Regions from separate parts of the Homo sapiens genome. Here regions 2 and 3 are each linked to region 1. Evidence: fine-mapped expression QTL. A gene starts in region 1. Each other region holds a variant in brackets. All regions are shown on one strand. Distances are from middle to middle. Region 1 holds the start of VWA8 (von Willebrand factor A domain containing 8). Region 2 overlaps VWA8 (von Willebrand factor A domain containing 8). Region 3 overlaps VWA8 (von Willebrand factor A domain containing 8).

What was found.
Region 2: its variant is fine-mapped to the expression of VWA8 in whole blood (INTERVAL, PIP 0.97).
Region 3: its variant is fine-mapped to the expression of VWA8 in nucleus accumbens (GTEx, PIP 0.99). The same link has a PIP of 0.9 or more in putamen.

What each region holds. Positions count from the first base shown.
Region 1 is chr13:41,956,847-41,965,030 of GRCh38, forward strand. VWA8 (von Willebrand factor A domain containing 8) reads right to left here and starts at 4,263. Exons shown (of 45, transcript NM_015058.2): 1 at 4,007-4,263. The coding sequence starts at 4,169. It overlaps VWA8-AS1 (VWA8 antisense RNA 1), which reads left to right and starts at 4,323. Exons shown (of 4, transcript NR_039974.1): 1 at 4,323-5,388. RefSeq lists enhancers at 2,496-2,996, 2,997-3,497, 3,593-3,732 and a silencer at 3,933-4,342.
Region 2 is chr13:41,801,890-41,810,073 of GRCh38, forward strand. All of the region lies in intron 17 of VWA8 (von Willebrand factor A domain containing 8), which reads right to left. It also overlaps the pseudogene RN7SL515P. Among named protein-coding and RNA genes, the nearest start is that of VWA8, 160 kb to the right of the region's middle. RefSeq lists an enhancer at 441-1,640. The variant T/TAA (reference allele first, on the strand shown) is at 4,112.
Region 3 is chr13:41,829,227-41,837,410 of GRCh38, forward strand. VWA8 (von Willebrand factor A domain containing 8) reads right to left here. Exons shown (of 45, transcript NM_015058.2): 13 at 4,145-4,305; 14 at 1,303-1,416. Among named protein-coding and RNA genes, the nearest start is that of VWA8, 130 kb to the right of the region's middle. The variant G/A (reference allele first, on the strand shown) is at 3,522.

The DNA.
Region 1 (8,184 bases):
TACAATGATATTTATTACCATGTTAATATGTTCACAATAATGGATGTAATAATTATAAAACATACATGATCCCATTTCTTTAAAAAAATGTATCTGTATAAATATACATATCATCCAGGCACAGTGGCTCAAATCTGTAATCCCAGCACTTTGGGAGGCAAAGATGGGCAGATCACTTTAAGTCAGGAGTTCGAGACCAGCCTGGCCAACATGGTGAAACCCCATCTCTACCAAAAATACAAAAATTAGCTGGGGTGGCTCATATGGTTTGCCTGTGTCCGACCCAAATCTTGTCTTGAATTCTAGCTCCCATAATCCCCATGTGTCATGGGAGGGACCCAGTGGGAGGTAATTGAATCATGGGGGCAGGTTTTTCCTGTGCTGTTCTCGTGGTAGTGAAAAAGTCTCACGAGGTCTGATGGTTCTATAAAGGGGAGTTTCTGTACACAAGCTCTCTTACTTGCCGCTATGTAAGACGTGACTTTTCTCCTCCTTCGCCTTCCACAATGATTGTGAGGCCTACCCAGCCATGCGAAACTATTGAGTCCATGAAACCTCTTTTTCTTCATAAATTACCCAGTCTCTGGCATGTCCTTATAGCAGTGTGAGAACAGATTAATACAGTGGTGCACACCTGTAGTCCCAGCTACTTGGGAGGCTGAAGCAGGAGAATCGCTTGAACCCAGGAGGTGGAGGTTGCAGTAAGCCAAGACTGCTCCACTGCACTCCAGCCTGGGTGCCACAGCAAGACTCCATCTCAAAAATAAATAAATAAATAATTATACATATATATGTAATCTGATAGGATTAATGCTAAAAAGTTGATAATTATAAATTTGGGTGGGAGGATCATGTTTTAGGGAATCTGTACTTATCACTCTTCTATAATAAACATAGATTGCTGTGTAAAAGTATTTTAGGGTATTTCTATAAACAAATTTACTTCATATACAAGAGTCATAAAGAAAAAACTGTGAATCCCTTTAATAATAATGGCGTTAAAGGAAAGCACCAAAATGTCATGATATATTTATACAGTTATGTTTCTAGGTTTATCATTTGATCTATAGTATATTTGAATCCATTTAACATCAGAGTCCCACTGAAACAACTTGCTTGGCTCCATCTGTAAAAACACTACAATAATCTTTATTGAAAACTCTCTGCAGTAGATATCCTTGTTAACCTCTTTGCTCTTAAAACCAAGAGACAGTAATTTTAATGGAAGTATAAAGAGATATAAAGAATTTACAATTATAGATACTTATACTATCTGACAGCACAGGATAAAAAGCAGTGGGTTTGGGTTGAGTTTATCTGCTTGTTTTGTTTTTAACATAAATGACCTATTTTCCTTCTGCTTATCAGGCTTAACAAAGGTCCTCTCTTGAGAGCAAACGACAATTCCAGCCTCTCCTGCTCCTTCTCTGTATGAACTTTCACAAAATAAGCCACTGAATGCTTACTAGGTACAAAGTGTTGGCAGGCACCAAACGAATATATAGATAAACAAAACAAATACTCCAGGAGAAATAACAGCAGTATATAACTTAAATATATTATTTATGAACTTTGTTGTTCTTTTTTCAAACTATTAGGAAGCAATGTCAATTACAGAGAGAGGAGATAATCAGTTACTGGTCACATGTATGAATGCAGCTGAGAGCATCATCCCAACATAAGATGTAATCCATTATGGCCTATTGCTATTTGTAGTTTTACACTTGTCCATGTATGATCTCTGATTCAAAATGGGACACTTCCATCTTGATAGCCTTACTCTCAGGCCTCAGAGTAGCCAAAAGTGTGCTGTCCATTTACCTGGCTCACAACTGCTCTTACTCAAGTCCAGATCTCTGGTGGGTTCCCAGCTGCATTCAGTTACAGTTCTCACACCCTCAAAAAATACCTCTTTTTGGTCTGATCCTGCCAGAGTAAATGACTGATTTAAAGAAGATAGTATGTTCTCTGTAATATGTCCATGACTCTCACATTTGAAGCAAAGCCTATACTTTGATTTACTGGCTATAACAAAATTTGAGGACATTTACAACTTATCTACCAATACGTATATAATACAGACTTTAAAAACTCACACCCACATGTGTTTTTACAATCAACATGTATTATCCATGTACAAAGAACAATTGTTTTTTAAAAAGTTCAAGTCAATTCACTCGGCTAAATCTGCCTACCCAGATAGTCTGAACAGTCCTGAATCTAAACAAACTTGGTTTCATGTCTTCTAAAGGCAAGGAAACAGAATAATTCTCAAATAGCTAAAACTGTACATACTAAGAATAAAAAAGCTAACTTTTATTGAGCATTAATATGTGCCACAGATTATATTAATTAATAAATCCTCACAACAACCATAATAGATATATTCTTCTTATCCTTTTACAGTTAAGAAAACTAGGACACAAAGTTAAGTAACCTACCCTCAACGACCCATGGTTAGATAGTGGATAAGTGGATTCCAACCCAAATTGTTTAACTCCAAAACCCAACCTATAGTTTATGCTATACTTCCACCTTTGACCTCTGCCTTCTAGGGCAAAGGAGCAAAAAACAAATAAAGAACACACAAAAAATGTAAAAAACAAATGAATAAACAGCCCAGAAGTGAGAGTAATTGAGAAAAAGCAAAAAAAAAAAAAAAAACAAAAAGTAAAATTTGAAATTGCAACACTATGGTGGGGGACGGGGGTGGTGTATGTCTTCAATGAATAAAACGAAATACGTGGGACCTAAATATGCTTTTTTTTTTTTTTTTTTTGAGATGGAGTCTTGCTCTGTCGCCCAGGCCGGAGTGCAGTGGCTCCGGTCACTCCAAGCTCCGCCTCCCGGGTTCACGCCATTCTTCTGCCTCAGCCTCCGGAGTAGCTGGGATTACTGGCGCCCGCCACCACGCCCGGCTAATTTTTCTGTATTTTCTTTTTAGTAGACACGGGGGTTTCACCGTGTTAGCCAGGATGGTCTCGATCTCCTGACCCCGTGATCCGCCCGCCTCAGCCTCCCAAAGTGCTGGGATTACAGGCGTGAGCCACCGCGCCCGGCCCATATGCTCATTTCTTAGCAAGGAAAACTGGGGGTTGCGGGGAAAATGCAAGAGGACAACGAAACCTACAATTTCATAGTGAAAACCTGTTATTCCAAGCAGCACTGACATTGACAAAATCTTGTCTGGAATCACTTCACCATTCAAGGGTAGCAACAACAGATATCCTTTCCTTAACCATCACAGTAACTCTAACTCCACCAACACACAAGAAAAAGAATTCCTAAAACCAGCTCAAGTAGAGCCAAAAAATACTGAGCTTAGAAATCAAAGCATGTGATTCTAGCATAGTAATTAGTTGTGTGTTCTCCAGCGAATCACTTTTCCCTTCTGGGTTTCAATTACCTCATTTGTAGAGGCAAGTGTTTTAACTAAATTAAGGTGTAACTGTCAGCTCTAAGAATTACGTGAAACTTTAAGGAAAACTCCTGTAAAACTTGGAAAGGCTCGGGGATGCATTTAAAACACCGTGAACTATGGGTTCTTTGGCAAGAATGTTCCCTTCTAAGCCGCCACAAGCCCTGGCTAGAACATGACACAGACCGGCTTCCAGGCCCTTGAGGCTCAGAGAGCAAGGTCAAATCCAGCTTTCAATAATTCCATAGGGCTGAGGCATTAACCTCTACGAGTATTATAACCTAAGTCAGAATTCTGGGGGTAAAGGCAGCGGCAGGGGAAGGAGAAATCACTCTTCTAGGTCATCAGAAACCTTAGTCCAGACCCCTCGGGTTGCAGAATCAGGCACAGAGAGGGCGAGCGCCTTGCCCCCACGTTACACAGCAGTTAGCGCCGAGGTCGGGACTAGAACCTCAATCTTTCAGCTCCCCGCTCGGCAAACGGTCCTTCCAAGCGCAGCGAAGCAACAGAGAGGAGGGGCGGGGGCGCGCGGGGACCCGGCACGGAGCGCAGGGGCACCAGGGAGGACAGGGGCGCACCCCGAGTTACCTGTGTCGGCCCCCGAGCCGGCGTGCAACAGTCTGACCTCCGGCCGCTGCCTGTCGCCACCCGGCCTGCGCTGCACCACCTGCCGCAGGAGCAGCCGCATGCGCCGCGAGGCCGGGCCGCCGTGGCCTCCGGGTGCCCCGAGGAGTAGAAGCCGGGATTGCATGGCGCCGGGGGGGCTGTCGGGGACGGCGAGGGGGCTCGGGGATCGAGCGGCGTCCCGTGCAGGCACCGTGAGGCAGCGCGGAGAAGGGGACAGGAAGCGGCACCTAGCCGAGTCCGCCGGAAACTCCTTCCCCCGCGGCGCGGCCGGCTCAGTAGACTCAGCCCGGCCCTACCCGGCCCTGCATGGCCCAGACGGGCGGAAAGAGCCTGCGGAGCTCCAGCCCAAAGAGCCGGCACCGTCCCGGGACTGCCCGCACCGCGGGGGTGCTCCGAGCTGCGGCGCTGGGCTCTGGCAAGCGCCTCGCAGTCCGTGAGACTGTCTGTTCACCTGGATGCACCAGGCCTTCACCCGCCGTTTCCCTGCGATCCCACAGAATCTCAGGAGTTCAGTAAATGCCAAGGGTTTTAGGAGCATTTGTCGGTGTGACTCTTCAGATGCTTGCCCCAAGTCTTCGTTTCTTAGTTAAAGGCCCAGTAAGTATAGGGAGCTTTCCCTGTATTCGGCTTCAGATTTCGGAAATGGAGAAAACATGCACAAGATGATGGGAACTTTCACAACTGTCTTGATTCATTGTAACCACACTAGTGTTTCCAAACCGTACGTGAAAGCTTTACCCTTTGTCCTTTTGGTGGTGGTTGTTTGTTTCTGTGTTTTATTACCGCTTCCTAAATTCTAAGGAAAAAATTCACATCTTAGTGATAGATGGAAATTGCTTAAATATCAGAAAGGATCCAGATCAAGCACTTTTCTAGTCATGCTGTAATACAAAAGTTATATAAAGATGATTTATGTCTTTAGTAAAGGAAAAAGTAGGACACTGGCTAAGGCTGCCTCCCTCTTGTACATTCCAACATCGGAAATGGTCCTACCACAAAGCAAACTAAGCCTAATGTAATTAGACTGCATCCCCAAAATGTCACAGTGAATTGACTAAGGCAAAATATTTGAGACAAGTTATACAAGCAAACATCAAAAAGAAGGCAGAAGACCTCACTTTCAGCTAAAGACCTTGCTAATTCTAGAGCTGCCACTGTCTAAATACATAGCACCTACCCTGCGCCTGACCCTGTGATGAGTGCTGAGAAGAGAGTGTTAGAGTGGAGACTGTAAAAGTCAAACAAGGCTAGGTAAGGAAGGCTTTGGGCATCCAGCGGAAGAACTTGAGGAATGAAGGCTGAACCAGGCTTCTAACCTAGATGAGGAGACAGTGAAAATAAAGGTAATAAGTAGTTACACAATATATTATGACTTCGTTTCATGTGTATCTTCTCATTTAATCCTCATAGCAACCCTAAGACATAAATTTAGGATGTAAGCTTATAAAATGCTTTTCCTACTTTGAGCACATTGTATGTATCAAGATTTTAATGAATTATCCCATTTCACATAAAAATGCTTTGAGGTACTATTATTATCCTCCGTTTTACAGATGAAGAAACTGAGGCTAGAAGAATTGAATACCTTGGTCAAGATATCTCCATTTAATCTCGCTGGAACTCAGTAGACACCTGAAAGAATGGGAGAACAACCTAAGGCAATTTTGCAAAGTGGTTGATATAAGCACTAAGAGCTCTTGGAGTTAAGACAATGGAGAGATCAACACAAGTTAGAGCATTCAACAACATTTTTTGCCTAGTTTTATTTTTTTTAGAGACAAAGTCTCACTCTGTTGCCCAGGCTGGGGTGCAGCGGCAGTATTATAGCTCATTGCAACCTCGAACTCCTGGGCTCGAGTGATCCTCCTGCTTCAGCCTCCCTAGTAGCTGAGACTACAGGCGTGCACCACTGTGCCTGGCTAATTTTTGTGTTTTTGTTTTCGTAGCAGTGGAGTCTTGTTATGTTGCCCAGGCTGGTCTCAAGCTCCTGGCCTCAAGTGATCCTCCTGCCTCAGCCTCCCAACGACAACATTTATTGAGTAACTGCTGTATAAACAGTACCCTGCTAGATACTGTGAATCAATGGGCTCACATTAGGTATTGATGATAAATATGCAAATAAAGAATTGCAATACAGTGAGACACGTGTCAAGAGATTTAGGTTCAACATACTGTGGAGTGGATTGCTGCACCTGGAGTCTTCACAGAGAAGGTAGTGTTTGAAATGATTCATGTAGGATATATTATACAAGAGTTTGTCAGGCTGAGACAAGTCAAATCTGGCAGACAGATCATGTACAGAGAGAGAGAGAAAGAAACAGCTGAAAGTGCAGGGCATGATTGAGAACCAGAGAGTGATTCAGTGTGTCTAGAGGTCAAGTATATACAACAGTTTGTAAGAATAAGACCAGAAAGAGAATCTGGGGCCATGTTGTATGCCAAGAGAAGGAGTTTGCACATTAACCTCCAGGAAATGGAAAAATGGTGAAGGTTTTTTAGAGTGACAAAGCTACAATGGGGAGGAAAACTTTGAGCCTGAGAAAAGGCAGCACCTGAGCTTAACTTTGAATGCCATTTAGGACTGGATACACAGAGAAGCGGGGTATAGAGCCTAAGTAGAGGCTTGGAGTCCTGACAGAGTTCAGTTACAGGGGCCATGAGACCAGCCAGATGAGGAGGTTAATCTTTCGAAAGTAGTAGAAGGTGTTGGCAGAGCAGGAGGAGAAGGTTACAGAGTGAAGAATCTTGAGTAGCTGGATGAAGTTGGACTTCATCCGATGAGCAAACTGGGCAGCTACTGGACTTTTTGATCGTGTTTTAGGTGGTGACATACTATGAATTGAATTAGGAAGACAGGAAGCATCAAGTGCTAGCTACGTGGCAGTAAAAATAGTCTCTACTTGAAATGATGAACAGTGCTGATGGCAATGAGACTGAATGGGAAAGAATGGACCTTCACAATGTTTTTAAAGAAGAACCAAAGGTGTTTTGTTTTAAAAGATGTTCATCACAATCTGTGTAAAGTCTCTCAAACTCTCACTAAAATATCTGATCACATGCTTATTAAAAAACAAGCTACCAGCCGGGCACAGTGGCTCAAACCTATAATCCCAGCACTTTGGGAGGCTGAGATGGGTGGATCACCTGAGGTCAGGAGTTGAGACCAGCCTGGCCAACATGGCAATACCCCATCTCTACTAAAAATACAAAAATTAGCCAGGCGTGATGGTGGGTGCCTGTAATCCCAGCTACTCGGGAGGCAGGGGCAGGAGAATCGCTTGAACCCGGGAAGCAGAGGTTGCAGTGAGCTGAGATCGCACCAGTGCATTCCAGCCCGGGCAACAGAGTGAGACTCTGTCTCAAAAAAAAAAAAAAAAAGAAAAAAGAAAATCACACTACCAAAAGCTAGTATTGACTGTCAAGCTCTTTCCAGAGTTTGGGAGGAATATTTTTTACATACCACATTAATGTAACTTGATGAAAAATGCAACTAATAATCCTTCCATGCTATGTCTGACTGAAAAAAGGTGGGTGCTCCACTCCTCCCTACTGTCTACCCCAGCTAAGAAATCAAAGGTTCATACCACTGGTTCCCAGACTTTTGTGTGCATCCTAATTACCTGGAGAACTTATTAAAATGCAGATTATAGGGTTTCGTTCCTCCCTGCACCCAGAGATTCTGAGTCAATAGGTCTGAAAGGGCCCAAGAATATTCATCTTTAGTAATACCTATAGGAGATCACCCATGTGCCACACATTTCAGTCATGAAGCTGTACAACTGTTCTTTATAGAGAGGGAGGGAAAAAGGAAAATCACAGCCAGGTGCAGTGGCTCACGCCTGTAATCCCAACACTTTGGGAGGCCGAGGCGGGCGGATCACCTGAGGTCAGGAGTTCGAGACCAGCCTAGCTAACATGGAGAAACCCCATTTCTACTAAAAATACAAAAAATTAGCTGGGTGCGGTGATGTGCACCTGTAATCCCAGCTACTCGGGAGGCTGAGGCAGGAGAATCGCTTGAACTCAGGAGGCAGAGATTGCAGTGACCTGAGATCGTGCCATTGCACTCCAACTTGGGCAACAAGAGTAAAACTCTGTTTCAAAACAAAAAACAAACAAAAAAACAAAAAAAACACAAA
Region 2 (8,184 bases), 150 kb before region 1:
ATTTATAAAATACCTCTGAAAATTATTGAATGTCTAAATAAGATAATATATTAATGGAATGAAAGTAGACCAAGATGGCTGAATAGAACCCTCCAGTAATTGTCCTCCCCTCCACAGGAACACCAAATTAACAACTATCCACATAAGAAAGCACCTTCATAAGAACCAAAAACCAGGTGAGCAATCACAGTACCTGGTTTCAACATCATATGAAGGAAGGAGGCACTGAAGGGAGTAGGAAAGACAGTCTTGAATTGCCTACACCACCTCTTCCCCATCCCCTAGTGGTGCTACATAGCTTGGAGAAAGAATCTGTGTGCTTGGGAGAGAAAGAGCATATTGATTGTGGTATTTTGCATTGGAATTCAGTGCTACCCTGTCACAGTGGAGAGCAACAGGGTAGCATTTTGATCAGCCCTAGCTAGAGGGGAATAATCATTCATCCCAGGGGTCAGAACCTGAATTCTAACTAGCCCCACCACCACAGGCTAAAGTGCTCTGTGTTCTAAATAAACTTGAAAGGCTGTCTAGGCCACAGGAATACAATTCCTGGGCAAGTCCTGGTGCTATGCTGAGTCGGTAGAGTTGGAGTGCATGTGACCCAGTCAGACACCAGTGCGGACAGCCAAGGCAGTGCTTGCACTGTCCCTTCCTCAACTCCAGGCAGCACAGCTTGCAGCTCTGGCAGAGATTCCTTCCACTGAAGGAAAGGAGAGGGGAGAGCAAAGAGGACTTTGTCTTACAATTTGGGTACCAGCTCAGCCAAAGTAAAATAAAGCACTAAACAAATTGCTAAAGTCCCCAATTCCAGGACTTAGCTCCTGGATGACATTTTGACACCCACCCTGGGCCAGAAGGGAACCCACTGCCCTGAAGGGAGATTCCCAGGCCTAGCAGGATGAATCACAACCTGACTAAAGAATAGTTGGGCCATGAATAAACATAAGTGGTAGCCAGACAATACTCACCACAAGCCTTGGGCAAGACCCTGTATTGTGCTGGTTTCAAGTCTGACCCAGCACAATCCCAGTGGTGATGGCCATCCCTCTCCCAACTCCAGACAGCTGAGCATGGAGAGAGAGATTCCATTTGTTTGAGGGAAAGTAAGTGAAGAGAGCAAGAGTCTCTGTCTAGCAGTCCAAGGAATTCTCCTGGTTACCCAAGACCACCAATGTGGTATCTCTATGAGTCTGCAAGAATCACAGCATTACAGGGCATGGAGTGTTCCCTAATGCAGGTATGGCTGCAGTGACCAGAATTAGATCACACACTCAATTCTCTTTGAATACTTGGAAATCTTTCCCAAGAAGGACATGTACAAACAAGCCCAGGCAAGGAAGACTACAATAAATACTCAACTCTTCAATGCCCAGACAACAATGAACATCCACAGGCATCAAGACCATCCAGGAAAACATGACCTTACCAAACAATCAAATAAGGCACCGGTGACCAATCTCAGAGAGACAGAGATATATGACTGTATTAGTCCATTTTCACACTGTTGATAAAGACATACCTGAGACTGGGAAATTTACAAAAGAAAGAGGTTTAATGGACTCACAGTTCCATGTGGGTGGGGAGGCCTCACAATCATGGCAGAAAGTGAAAGCACGTCTCACATGGCAGCAGACAAAAGAAGAGAACTTGTGCAGGGAAACTCCCCTTTATAAAACCACCAGTTCTCATGAGACTTATTCACTATTACAAGAATTGCATGGGAAAGATCCGCCCCCGTGATTAATTATCTCCTACCAGGTCTCTCCCACAATTTGTGGGAATTATGGGAGCTACAATTCAAGATGAGATTTGGGTGGGGACACAGCCAAACCACATCAGTGACCTTAAAGAAAGAATGGAAAATAGCTATTTTGAGGAAGCTCAATGAAATTCAAGATAACACAGAGAAGGAATTCAGAATTCTATCAGATAAATGTAACAAAGAAATTGAAATAATTTTTAAAAATCAAGTAAAAATTCTGGAGCTGAAAAATTCAATTGAAATACTGAAGAATACATCAGTCTGTCAACAGCAAAATTGATCAAGCAAAAGAAACAATTAGTAAGCTTGAAGACAGGCTATTTGAAAACACACAGTCAGAGGAGACAAAAGAATAAAACAATCAAAAAGAATAAAACATGACTACAAGATCTAGAAAATGGCCTAAAAAGGGCAAATCTAATAGTAAATGGCCTTAAAGAGGAGGTAGAGAGAGATCAGGGTAGAAGACTTATTCAAAGGCATAATAACAGAGAACTTCCCAAACCTAGAGAAAGACATCAATATTCCAGTACAACAAGGTTATAGAACACCAGGCAAATTTAACTCAAAAAAGACAACCTCAAGATATCTGAGGTACCTAAAAGCAGGAAGAGAAAAGAAACAAACAACATATAATGGAGCTTCACTAGGTTTGGCAGCTGACTTCTGAGTGGAAACTTTACAGGCCAGTAGAGAGTAGCATGATACATTTAAAGTGCTGAAGGAAAAAGCTTTTATCCTAAAATAGAATAACCAGCAAAAATATCCTTCAAACATGAAGGAGAAATATAGACTTTCCCAGACAAACAAAAGTGGACGGATTTAATAAATGTCACACTTGTCCTACAAGGGAAAAAAAAAGGAATTAAAAAATTAATTTAAAAATTAAAAAAAAATTAATGAGCAGTAAGAAATATCTGAAGCCTCAAAATTCACTGGTAATAGTAAGTATACAGAAAAAGACAGAATGTCATAACATTTATTTGTAGTATGTAAACTACTTATAACTTGAGTATAAAGATTAAAGATGACTGAACAAAAATAATAACTACAACAGCTTCTCAAGACATAGATAGTACAATAAGATATAAGCAGTAACAACAAAAAGTGAAAAAGTGGGTGGACAAAGTTAGAGTGTAGAGTTTTTATTAGTTTTCTCTTTATTTACACAATCAGTATTAAGTTGTCATCAGTTTAAAATAACGAGTTATAAGGCATTATATGCAAGCCTCATGGTAACCTCGAACCAAAAAATCCAAATATACAGCAAATGAAAAGCAAGAAATTAAAACACACCACCTGAGAAAATCACTTTCACTAAAGGAAGACAGAAAGTAAGGCAAGAAGAAAGAGAAGACCATAAAGCAACCTAAAAACAAACAACAAAATGGCAAGAATAATTCCTTACTCATCAATAACATGGAATGTAAATGGACTAAACTTTCCAGTCAAAAGACAGAGTAGCAAAATGGATTTTTAAAAATGAGACTCAATGATCTGTTGTCTTCAAGAAACACACTTCACATATGAAGATACACAGACTGAAAATAAAGGGACAGAAAAAAATATTCCATGCCAAATGAAACAAACAAACAAAAGAAAAACCAGGAGTCACTATAATTATATCAGACAAAATAGACTTCAAGACAAAAACTATAAGAAGAGACTAAGAAGACTGCTATACAATGATAAAAGGGTCAATTCAGCAAGAGCATATAACAATTTTAAATATATATGCACCCAATACTAGAGCACCCAAATATATAAAAGCAAATATTTTTGAGCAAAAGAGAGAGATAAACCCCAATACAATAATAGCTGGAGACTTCAACATTGGACAGATCACCCAGACAGAAAATCAACGAAGAAATATTGGACATGGCTGGGTGCGGTGGCTCATGCCTGTAATCCCAGCACTTTGGGAGGCTGAGATGGGCAGATCACCTGAGGTTGGGAGTTTGAAACTAGTCTGACCAACATGGAGAAACCCCATCTCTACTAAAAATACAAAAATTAGCTGGTCATGGTGGTGCACGCCTGTAATCCCAACTACTTGGGAGGCTGAGGCAGGAGAATCGCTTGAACCTGGGAGGCGGAGGTTGCAGTGAGCCAAGATTGCGCCATTGCACTCCAGCCTAGGTAATAAGAGCAAAACTTCATCTCAAAAAAAAAGAAAAAGAAAAAAAGAAATGTTGGACTTAATCTGCACTACAGACCAAACTGACCTGCCGGTATTTACAGAACATGTGATCCAACGGCTGCAGAATACACATTCTTCTCAGCACATGGATCATTCTCAAGGAGAGACCATATATTAGGCCACAAAACAAGTCTTAAAAAATTCAAAAA[T/TAA]AAAAAAAAAAAAAAAAGAAATGATGTCAAGTATCTTCTGTGACCACAATGGAATAAAACTAGAAATCAGTAACTGGAGGAATTTTGGAAACTACACAAATACATGGAAACTAAACAATAGGCTCCTGAATGACCAGTGAGTCAATGAAGAAATTAAGAAGAAAACTGAAAAATTTATTGAAACAAATGAAAATGGAAACACACCAATCCTATAGGATATAGCGAAAACAGTATAATAAAAGAAAAGTCTATAGCCATAAAAGCCTACATCAAAAAAGTAGAAAAACTTCAAATAACCTAACAATGTATCTTGGAAAACTAGAAATGCAGGAGCAAACCAAACCCAAAATTAGTACAAGAAAAGAGATAATAAACATCAGAGCAGAAACAAATAAAATTTAAATTAAACATGCAAAGGATAGGCTGGGCGCAGTGGCTCACGCCTGTAATCCCAGCACTTTGGGAGGCTGAGGCCAGCGGATCACAAGGTCAGGAGATCGAGACCATCCTGGCCAATATGGTGAAACCCCATCTCTACTAAAAATGCAAAAAATTAGCTGGGCATGGTGGCACGTGCCTGTAGTCCCAGCTGCTTGGGAGGCTGAGGCAGAAGAACAGCTTAAATCTGGGAGGCAGAGGTTGCAGTGAGCCAAGATCATGCCACTGCACTCCAGCCTGGGCAACAGAGCAAGCCTCTGTCTCAAAAAAAAGAAAAAAAACTACAAAAATTAGCTGAGTGTGGTGGCACATGCCTGAAATCCCAGCTACTCAGGAGGCAGAGGCAGGAGAATTGCTTGATCCCTGGAAGGGGAGATTGCAGTGAGCTGAGGTCGTGCCACTGCACTCCAGTCTGGCAACAGAGTGAGACTCCATCTCAAAAAAAAAAAAAAGGAAAAGATTAATGAAATGAAAAGTTAGTTTTTTGCAAAGATAAAATTGACAAACCTTTACTCCAACTAAGAAAAAGGAAGATTCAAATAAATAAAATCAGAGATGAAAAAGGAGACGTTAGAACTGTTACCACAGAAATACAAAGGATCATTAGAAGCTACCATGAGAAACTATATGCCAACACATCGGAACACCAAGAAGAAACGGAGAAATTCTTAAACACACACAACCTCTCAAGATTGAACTACGAAGAAATAGAAAATGTGAACAAACCAATAACAAGTAACGAGATTGACACCATAACAAAAAGTCTTCAGCAAAGAAAAGCCTGGGCCCTGATCGCTTGCCTGCTGAATTTGACCAAACATTTATAGAAGAACTAATACCAATCCTACTGAAACCATTCTGAAAAATAGAGGAGGAGGGAATATTTCCAAACTTGTTCTACAAGGCCACTATTACCCTGATACCAAAACCAGAGAAGACACATCAAAAAAAAAGAAAACTACAGGCCAATATCCTTGACAAATGTTGATGCAAAAATCCTCAATAAAATAGTAGCAAGCCAAACTCAACAACACATTATAAAGATCATTCATCATGACCAAGCGGGATTTATGCCAGGGATGCCAGCATGGTTAAACACATGCATATCAGTCAATGTGATGCATCATATCAACAGAAGGTAAAACAAAAACCATGTGATCACTTCAATTGATGCTGAAAAAGAATTTTATAAAATTCAACATCCCTTCATGATGAAAACCCTCCAAATGATGAGGATAGCTGGGCACAGTGGTGCATGCCTGTAGTCCCAGCTACTCAGGACACTGAGGCAAGAGAATGGCTCGAGCCCAGGCGTTCTGGGTTGTAATGCACTATACTGACTGGGTATCTGCACTAAGTTCAGCATCAATATGGTAATCTCCCAGGAGCGGGGAACCACCAGGTTGCCTAAGGAAGAGTGAACTGGCTCAGGTCAGAAAAAGAGCCAGTCAAAACTCCTGTGTCGATCAGCAGGGAGATCGCGCCTGTGAATAGCCACTGCACTACGATCCGTTGTCTACAACAAGCACACTTCACATATGATGATACATAGACTGAAAATAAAGGGACAGAAAAAAATATTCCATGTCAAATGAAACAAACCAACAAACAAAAAACAGGAGTCACTATACTTATATCAGACAAAATAGACTTCAAGACAAAAACTATACAGCCTGGCAACAAAGTGAGACTCCATATTTAAAATCACTAACAAAATAAAAATAAACTTTTTTAAAAAAACACTGAGTATAGAAGGAACATACCTCAACACAATGAAAGCCATATATGACAGACCTACAGCTAGTATCATACTTGTGTTAGTCCGTTTTTGTACGACTATAAAGAAATATCTGAGACTGAGTAATTCATAAAGAAAAGAACTTTAATTGGCTCATGGTGCTGTACAGGACACATGACGCTGGCATTTTCTTGTCTTATGGGGAGGCTTTAGGAAACTTAAAATCATGGCAGAAGGCAACGGGGGAACAAGCACTTCACATTGTCAGAGCAGGAGAAAGAGAGAGAGGCAGGGAGGTACCACAAACTTTTAAACAACCAGATCTCATGAGAACTCACTCACTGTCATGAGACCATCACCAAGGGGAAATCCACCCCCATGATCCAGTCATCTCCCACCAGGCCCCACCTCCAACACTGGGGATTAGAATTAGACACAAGATTTGGGCAGGGACACAGATCCAACCCATATCAATACTGAATCGGAAAAACTGGAAGCCTTTCCTCTAAGATCTGAAACAAGGCAAGGATACACACTTTCACCTCTGTTATCCAACACAGTAGTGGAAAACCTACCTAGAGCAACTGGATACAAGAGAGAAATGAAAAGTACTCAAACTGGAAAGGAAAAAATTACATTATCCTTGTTTGCAGATGATATGAGCTTATACTTGAAAAAAAAACCTAAAGACTCCAACAGAAACCTATTAGAATTGATCAACAAATTCATTAAAGTTGCAGGACACAAAATCAACATACAAAAATCAGTAGCGCTTCTGTATGTCAAAAGTGAACAATGTGAAAAAGAAATAAAAAAAGTAATCCAATTTACAACAGCTACAAATAAAATAATATATATAAGAATAAACTTAACCAAAGAAGGGAAAGACCCCTACAATGAAAACTATAAAACACTGATGGAGGAAATTGAAGAGGATGCTAAAAAATGGAAAGATATTCCATATTTATGGATTGGAACAATCAATGCTGTTAAAATGTCCATACTACCACAAACAATCTACAGATTAAATGCAATCCCTATCAAAATATTAATGACATTCTTTACAGAAATAGAAAAATAATCCTAAAATTTATATGAAACCACAAAGACCCAGAATAGCCAAAGCCATCTTGAGCAAAAAGAACAAAACTGAACCAATCATATTACCTGACTTCAAATTATACTATAGAGCTATGTAACCAAAACAGCATAGTACTAGCATAACAGATACATAGACCAATGGAACAGAATAGAGAACCCAGAAACAAATCCATACACCTACAGTGAACTCATTCTTGACAAATGTGTCAAGACCATACATTGGGGAAAGGAGAGTTTCTTCAATAAATGGTGCTGGGAAAACTGGATATCCATAAGCAGAAGAATGAAAGTAGACCCTATCTCTTGCCATATACAAAAATCAAATCAAAATGGATTAAGAATTAAATCTAAGACCTCAAACTATGAAACTACTAAAAGAAAGCATTGGAAAAACTCTCCAAGACATTGGTCAGGACAAATATTTCTTAAGTAATTCCCCACAAGCATAGGCAACCAAAGCAAAAATGGGACAAATAGGATCACATTGAGTTAAAAAGCTTCTTGGGCAGCAAAGGAAATTGTCAATGAAGTGAAGAGACAACCCACAGAATGGGAAAAAATATTTGCAAATCATCCATCTGACAAGGGATTGATAAAATATATGAATTTAAACAACTCAGTAGGAAAAAGCCTAATAATCTGATTATACAATGCATGAAAGATCTGAATAGAAATTTCTCAAAAGAAGAGATACAAATGGCACACAGGTATATGAAAAGGTACTCAACATCACTGATGACTAGAGAAATGCAAATCAAAACTATAATGAGGTATCACCTCACCCCAATTAAAATGG
Region 3 (8,184 bases), 130 kb before region 1:
AAAGTCAAAAAATAATACATGTTGGCATGCATGTGGTGAAAAAGTAACACTTTTACACTGCTGGTGGCAATGTAAATTAGTATAACCACTATGGAAAACAGTATGGAGAGTCCTTAAAGAACTAAAAGTAGAACTACTGTTTGATCCAGCAATCCCACTACTGGGTATCTACCCCCAAAAAAAGATGTCATTATATGAAAAAGATACATGCACATTCATGTTTATAGCAACAGAATTCACAATTGCAAAGATATGGAACCAACCTAAGTGCCTATAACCAACGAGTGGATAAAGGAAATGTGATACACACACACACACACACACACACACACACACACACATGCACACACACACACACCATGGAATACTACTCAGCCATAAAAAGGAATGAAATAATATCTTTTGCAGCAACTTGGATGGAGCTGGAGGCCATTATTCTAAGTGAAGTAACTCAGGAATGGAAAACCAAATATTGCATGTCATCACTTACAAGTGGGAGCTAAGCTATGAGGACACAAAGCATAAGAATGATATAATGGACTTTTGGAACTCAGGGGCAGGGAAGCTTGTGGGGGGCGGTGAGGGATAAAAGACTACATATCAGGTACACTGCTCAGGTGACAGGTATACCAAAATCTCAGAAATCGCCACTAAAGAACTTATCCCTGTAACCACAAACCATCTGTGCCCCAAAAACTATTGAAATAAAAAATTTTTTTAAAAAAATCACTGTCGGCCGGGCACAGTGGCTCACGCCTGTAATCCCAGCACTTTGGGAGGCCAAGGCGGGCGGATCACGAGGTCAGGAGATCGAGACCATCCTGGCTAACAAGGTGAAACCCTGTCTCTACTAAAAAATACAAAAAATTAGCTGGGTGTAGTGGCGGGCGCCTGTGTTCCTGGCTACTTGGGAGGCTGAGGCAGGAGAATGGCATGGACCTGGGAGGCGGAGCTTGCAATGAGCCGAGATTGCGCCACCGCACTCCAGCCTGGGTGACAGAGCGAGACTCTGTCTCAAAAAAAAAAAAAAAAATCACTGTCATATTAACAACAAAAAAGCAAATAAAACAGTTGATTAGGTTTTTTTTTTTAAAAAAAAAAAGTAAGGCTGAGAGTACAGATTACACCTTGGAGAGCAACCTCAAGTTTTAAGAAATGCCAAAGTAGTGGCATATCCAGGACACCAAATTATTAAATTGTTCAAAGTTATCTTGGCATTATTCTAGGTTTAGAAAAATCATAAAAAGTATTATTTTTAACTTAACAATAAATTAGCAATGGGAGTAATGGACCCCAAATTACCTCTTCTGTAGCTGTTCATCAGACAGTTGCAGCTCCTCCTTTAAACGCATATACCTGTCTTCTCTCAGCAGCCTAGAACCATCATAGAGGCTTAGCTCTCGATCATGGATTAACCTAACAAGATAAGAAAAAAGCCCGAAAATAAATTAATGTGTTTTGAACACTGAAGTTTTCAGAGGCAGAATCAGTCAGCCAACAGTCTATTATTGCTGGCAATTGAGTCTAATAATTTTGTTAGATGGACCTTTCAAAATTTCAAATTGGCTACTGCTGTTACACTTCGCAAAACTGTTGGTTTCTGTACTGGAGGGCAGTAGTCATAAATATTTGATAGGGATATGAAAGAGGGGGAGGAGGAGGAAAAAAGAAAAGAGGAGGAGGAAGGAGAGCAAAAGAAACAGCTGAATGAGTATCTCAAGATAACCACAAGGTACATATTAATAAACAAGGCAGGTGGCACTTACTCTCTTCGGTCTAAAGTAACTCTGTAAGGGTTGGCATAAAAATATTTCTATCTTTGGAATTACAAGATTTAAAAATACAAAAATCTTATAATGAAATAACTACATTGCTCTACATATGGCAACTCTGAAGGTGACCTAACCATCCACATCACACATAGCATAGTCTTCCAGATGTTGCAATGGCTGAAAAGCACTGTTCTATATCTCACACCAACCCCTAAGTCTCCTAATGCCCACAATAGAGTTAGCCTACATAGCCTCCATTCTATAAGCACTGAAGGGAGGGGATGCTGTGTAATGCAGGGGATAGGAGCATGGCCGGTGGAACCAATCAGACCTGGGTTCAACTCCAGCTGTGCACCTTACTAGCTGAATGAGTGGGGAGAGGGAGAACGACTCTATCTCTCTAAACTCTCGTCTTCCATAACGTTAAGGCAACAGTCACAACTTCACAATATTAATGTGAAAACTAAACAGCTAATGTAAAATGGATGCTTATAGCTGTTCTCAATCTTGACTGTACGTTAGAATCTTCTGGGAAGTGTTTAAAAATGCCAATGTTCAGACCTTGGCCTAGACCAATTATATCAGAAAATTCTGATGGTGAAGCCCAGGCATGAGTTTTTTTTTTTTTTTTTTTTTTTGAGACAGAGTCTCCCTCTCGTCACCCAGGCTGCAGTGCAGTGGCGCGATCTAGGCTCACTGCAACCTCCGCCTCCTGGGTTCAAGCTATTCTCCTGCCTTAGCCTCCTGAGTAGCTGGGATTACAGGTGCATGCCTCCATGCCCAGATAATTTTTGTACTTTTAATAGAGACGGGGTTTCACCATGTTGACGAGGCTGGTCTCAAACTTCTGACCTCAGGTGATCCGCCCACCTCGGTCTCCCAAAATGCTGGGACTACAGGTGTGAGCTACTGCACCTGGCCCGCATCAGCATTTTTTTTTTCTTTTTTTTTGAGACAGAGTCTCGCTCTGTCACCAGGCTGGAGTGCAGTGGCGCCATCTCGGCTCACTGCAACCTCCACCTCCCGGGTTCAAGCAATTCTCCTGCCTCAGCCTCCTGAGTAGCTGGGACTACAGGCACATGCCACCACTCCCAGTCCATTTTTGTATTTTTAGTAGAGAAAAGGTTTCACCATCTTAGCCAGGATGATCTCAATCTCTTGACCTCGTGATCTGCCCACCTCGGCCTCCCAAAGCACTGGGATGATAGGCGTGAGCCACTACACCTGGCCGGCATCAGTATTTTTTAATTGCCACCCTGCAAGGTGATTCCAAGGTTGAGAACCTGAGAAGCACTGGCTTAGCACAATGCACAGAGTAGGTACTCAATTAATGGTAGTAGCTGCTTCTATTATTACTACTTGCAAACATGCAAGAGATAGCTAATAAAATGGGACTATTACCGTGTCTGCAGTGGTCTGGGAGAAAAAAATATTGTAAATCTATGGAACGTTTATGGTAAATCACTGAAAGTTTGTGACTATTTTTAAATGTTCTAAAATCTAATCAGGATTAACATAACGTATTTAGAATTTTTAATTACATTCAGTATCTGCATCACATCAAGAAAAAAAAAACTCTAAGTGGTTAGTTGGATAATGGCTTATTCTACTTATTTAACCTTTCCTAATGAGTCACAGTTAAAAATCAAATGTCTACAAGTTAGAGAACCAAAATAAACAGAAAATATCAGTATCATTAATCTCCTAAAATGATACAAGATGGGAATATTTTCTACAAAAGTTACACAC[G/A]AAGAGCCTTCTCTTAACATTAAATTCTAGAGAAGTTTTAGGAATGTGTGGAAATTTTTCCCAACTAAACCAAAATAAGAAAACAATAGTTATAGAAATGTTCAAGTTTATAATTAACAAAGTGAGCTTTTTTAGTCTATATAAAATATAATTTAAAGCTATTATATATTTTACAAACAAAACTACTTTTCTCTCTCTCAAAAAAAAAAGATTCCAACAAGACCAACCAATAATTAAGATCTATGATTGATAAGGAGTGTGTAAATACTGAAGCTGTGACTCTGACAAATTATAGAAACTTCAGCAATGTGACATGCTGCATATATAGACCTGTATATATAAAGTTTTTCAAACTTACTACTGAAGCACTTTCTTTTTGCAGTGCCTACACACGGAATTCTGCTACAGGAGTGGCTTTTCCCAAAATGTTCATTATTTGGAGTTTTACTGCATTGTGTTTATAACAATAAAAAAGTGCCATTCTACTTGGTATAGAATCATGATTTTTCAGGATCTACACAACCCAGTTTAAAAAAAAGAAAAAGAATGAGATAGTTCCATCTTTACTGCTTAAGTCAGAGTGGGGTGTGTGTCTGTGTGTGATTTTTGTGACTCATACCCACCTTTGCAATACAGCAAGCGTGCCCGCATTCACCCGGTGAATGCCATCCAGCAGGACCAGCTTGCCTTCCAGAGCAGCATTCACAAGGGGTGAGGACCGCCAGGCAGTGTCTCCATTTGGAAGGGTGTATCTCTGCTGTAGCAGATCACGCGCTGTCATATCCTAAAACAAATCCCCACCACCCAACAAAGAACATGACGAATTAATTTTTAAGACATGCAAGGTAGCTTACATGGCTTTATAGAGTCACCTCCGTCTGAACTTAACATTCCATATAGTAACAGAGAAGTCATCTTCTCCAATTCCTAAAACGAAAGCTCTTCAGAAAGCTTTTTTTTGGTCATTTTAGGATTTTTTTCCATTACTCATTACATAATATAGTAAGAGTGAGAGGTTTTTTTCCCTACTTTATATTTAGCATTTTCTTCCGCTTTTAAAATGTTCGTTTACATAATGGCAGTAATTTCCACCTGAATAACAGAATTTAACTCAATCAGCTCTATTCCTGTGTTTTCATATGCCAACTTTTATGGTGACCTAACCATCCATGTGTTGACTCAATTTTAAAATGAGAGATCATGCAAACTCAACATGCAGAGATGTTTATCAATAATGTGCATTTTCTAGCAGTTGATGAGTTTTCCTGAAAAGCTATGCTAGGACCATCACAATGACTCATTTTATTTAAAGAGGCTTGATAATGGAGGAAATTGAAGAGGACAGTCATCAGATGAGGTACAGGAATTGGGAAACAATAGCATAGCACTTAAAAGCAATTTTTAAAAGCACACACACAATGTGCTAACAATAAAATAGTGTAACAGACTTAAGCAAACTATTAATAGTTGTGGCATATAAAAGTTTATCTACTGTAAAAAACTGGAGCTATATAATATGAACAATTTTTTCTTACATGTGCTAATGTGGATAGTTTCTTTTCTATCACCTTCAGATACATTTTGTGCGACTTATAGCAAAGAAAAGTTAAACACATTTACAGTCATTTTTATCCAAATATTTAAAGTCTTCTGTAAATTCTTGGCTACACACTCCCAACTTTCAGCAGATAGAAAACTAATGAATTTGCTTTATATTCATAATGGCAATGAATCTGTATTGAAACCAAGATTAAAATTTAAGTCTTAATTGTTTCAATCTTCTCACTATCAAGAAAGTACTGACTAAATGGCTATTACTAAAAATTCAAAAAAATAACAGATGCTGGCAAGGTTCTGTAGAAACAGGAACATTTTTACACTGTTGGGAGTGTAAATTAGTTCAACCATTGTGGAAGACAGTGTGGCAATTCCTCAAAGACCTAGAGGCAGAAATACCATTCAAGCCAGCAATCCCATTACTGAGTATATACCCCAAGGGATATAAATCATTCTATTATAAAGATACATACATGCGTATGTTCACTGCAGCACTGTTCACAAGAGCAAAGACATGGAATCAACCTAAATGCCCATCAATGATAGACTGGATAAAGAAAATGTGGTACATACACACCGTGGAATACTATGCAGCCATAAAAAGGAACTAGATCATGTCCTTTGCAGGGACATGGATGCAGCTAGAGGCCATTATTCTTAGCAAACTAACCCAGGAACAGAAAACCAAATACCACGTGTTCTCACTTATAAGTGGAAGTTGAATGATGAGAACACATGCACACATGGTGGGGAACAACACACACTGGGGCCTGTCAGAGGGTGAGAGGAGGGAGGAGGGATAGCATCAGGAAGAACAGCTAATGGATGATGGGCTTAATACCTGGGTGATGGGATGATCTATGCAGCAAACCACCATGGCACACGTTTACCCATGTAACAAACCTGCACATCCTGCACATGTACCTCTGAACTCAAAATAAAAGTTGGAAATTTTAAAAAGAGAAAGTACTGACTTAGGAAGTATGAATAGGCTCATTTTGAATCATAAAGACCTTTGAAAAACAGTAACATTCAAACTCAGCAACTTCCCATAAACTTAAAAGGCTGGTTTTGACACATTGTCAAAATTTGTTCTTTTTAAATAACTTTATTTAATTCTTCAACTATGAATTCTAAATTATATGCAAATTATATGAGCAATATCACTCTCTTGATGCCAATGACAGTTATAACAACCAAGACTAAATTGATCACCATCATCCGTGTTTACTGAGACAGTCACGACATTCCTCATTTTTCCTGGGCCCAAGCAAAAGATTCATTCCCACTCATGCTTATGCTACAGAACACCAAAGGGATCGCTCTCTAGAACAGGACAAAATCAAAATAAGTGTCTGTGGGTCATTTTTATAGTCAAACTATGAAAAAAAATCAAATATTACATATGCATATACATGTGCATATAAATATATATGTGTCTGTATATATATGTATGTATACAAATACATACAAACACACAGAATTTTTTAAAGTAAATATAAAAACAGATAAATTTAAAGAAAACTCCTGGTATGAATCATTCCAGAAAAATATTTGCCATAGAGTTACATCACACATTACCTTGGAAAAGTAAAAAAAGAAACAGAAAACACAGTTTAGCGCAGTGGTTCAAAATTAAAGATACATTATCAGAAACAGGTGGGGAACTTTTGAAACATATATAAACTTAAGCTCCACTATCCTGAAGATTCTGATTCATCAGGGCCAACATGGGGCCTACCATCTGTTTTTTATTAAACATTACATAGATGATTCTGATATGCCTCCCACGTGGGAAACACTGCTTAAAAAGATATTAAATTAAAATTCACTTATCTATACCCTTCCTTGTTCTAATATGATGTGAGATTGCAAAAGATATACAAAATGCACAACAAAATAACATAAATTAAAAGTAAAGTTAAAAATAAGAGAAAAAAAGAGTAGGCTTTGTCTATTTTAAGCATTCCTATTGGAATTCAGAGAGGAGATGGCAGGATGAAGGCATTCAACTAATATCATACTTTCAAAGAAACTGATGGATGTTAATTTTGAAAATCACAGCTTCAGACTGAAAACAGCTGATATCCTGGCCCAATTAAGGTTAGGAGTCTTTTGCTTGGGCCCAGGAAAAGATGAGGAATGTCGTGACTTCAGCAGACATAAGAGGCTCAGACTCCTAAAAAGCTGAAGCTAAAAACTGGTAACATTTTTTTTTTAATTTCAATAGAAAGAATTCCTCATTCTTATACCAACATATCTGAATCACCATTCTGTGCATGATATAAAAAAGCACTATTTCATTTGGTTATGATTCCAAAGTATTTTTTATCTTATTAATTCACAGGATGTGTACAGTACTTACCTTATTCAAGTAAGTAAACATTTATACTAACAGAGATGATGAAAAAGACAACTAGTACATAGGGCTCTTCTTTTACAATCTAGTAGTTGGAGACTCGCTTACATTTGCTAAAGTAAAATGAATGATTATTTTTTGCTACACAATATGCAGCAGCAGATCAATATAGCTCACCGCTATAAATGCCAACCAAAGCTATAGACCAGAAATGTTCTTCCTCTTTTCAATCTTCGGAGGGATAGAACATGGGAAATACTTGATATTTCTTAGAAGACTAGCTCAGTTAAATTTTATCACCTAAACTCTGTATACCATCATATTAGAAAGAGCCATTCTTCATTTTTAATAAACACACACGTGCAGATAGATGATAGATAGATAGATAGATAGATAGATAGATAGATAGATAGATAGAGATTTTTAAAAAATATTTTGTAGAGACAAGTTCTCACTCTGTTGTCCAGTCTGGTCTTGAACTCCTGGCCTCCAGCAATCCTCACACTTCAGCCTCCCAAAGTGGCAAGATTACAGGTATGAGCCACTGCCAATTTCTAATAAACCTTTGCATCAAAATAAAAACCTTCCTAAGAGAAAGAAAAGCACTCCCTTTAATATAAGCTATTGGTTTTCATAATTAACAACTTCTATTGAAAGACAAACATTTCAGCTTTTCCTTAAAGAGATAGTTGGCCCTACTTTCCCCAATATTAGTTATTATCAGAAGGTATTTTCAATTGTGTGAAA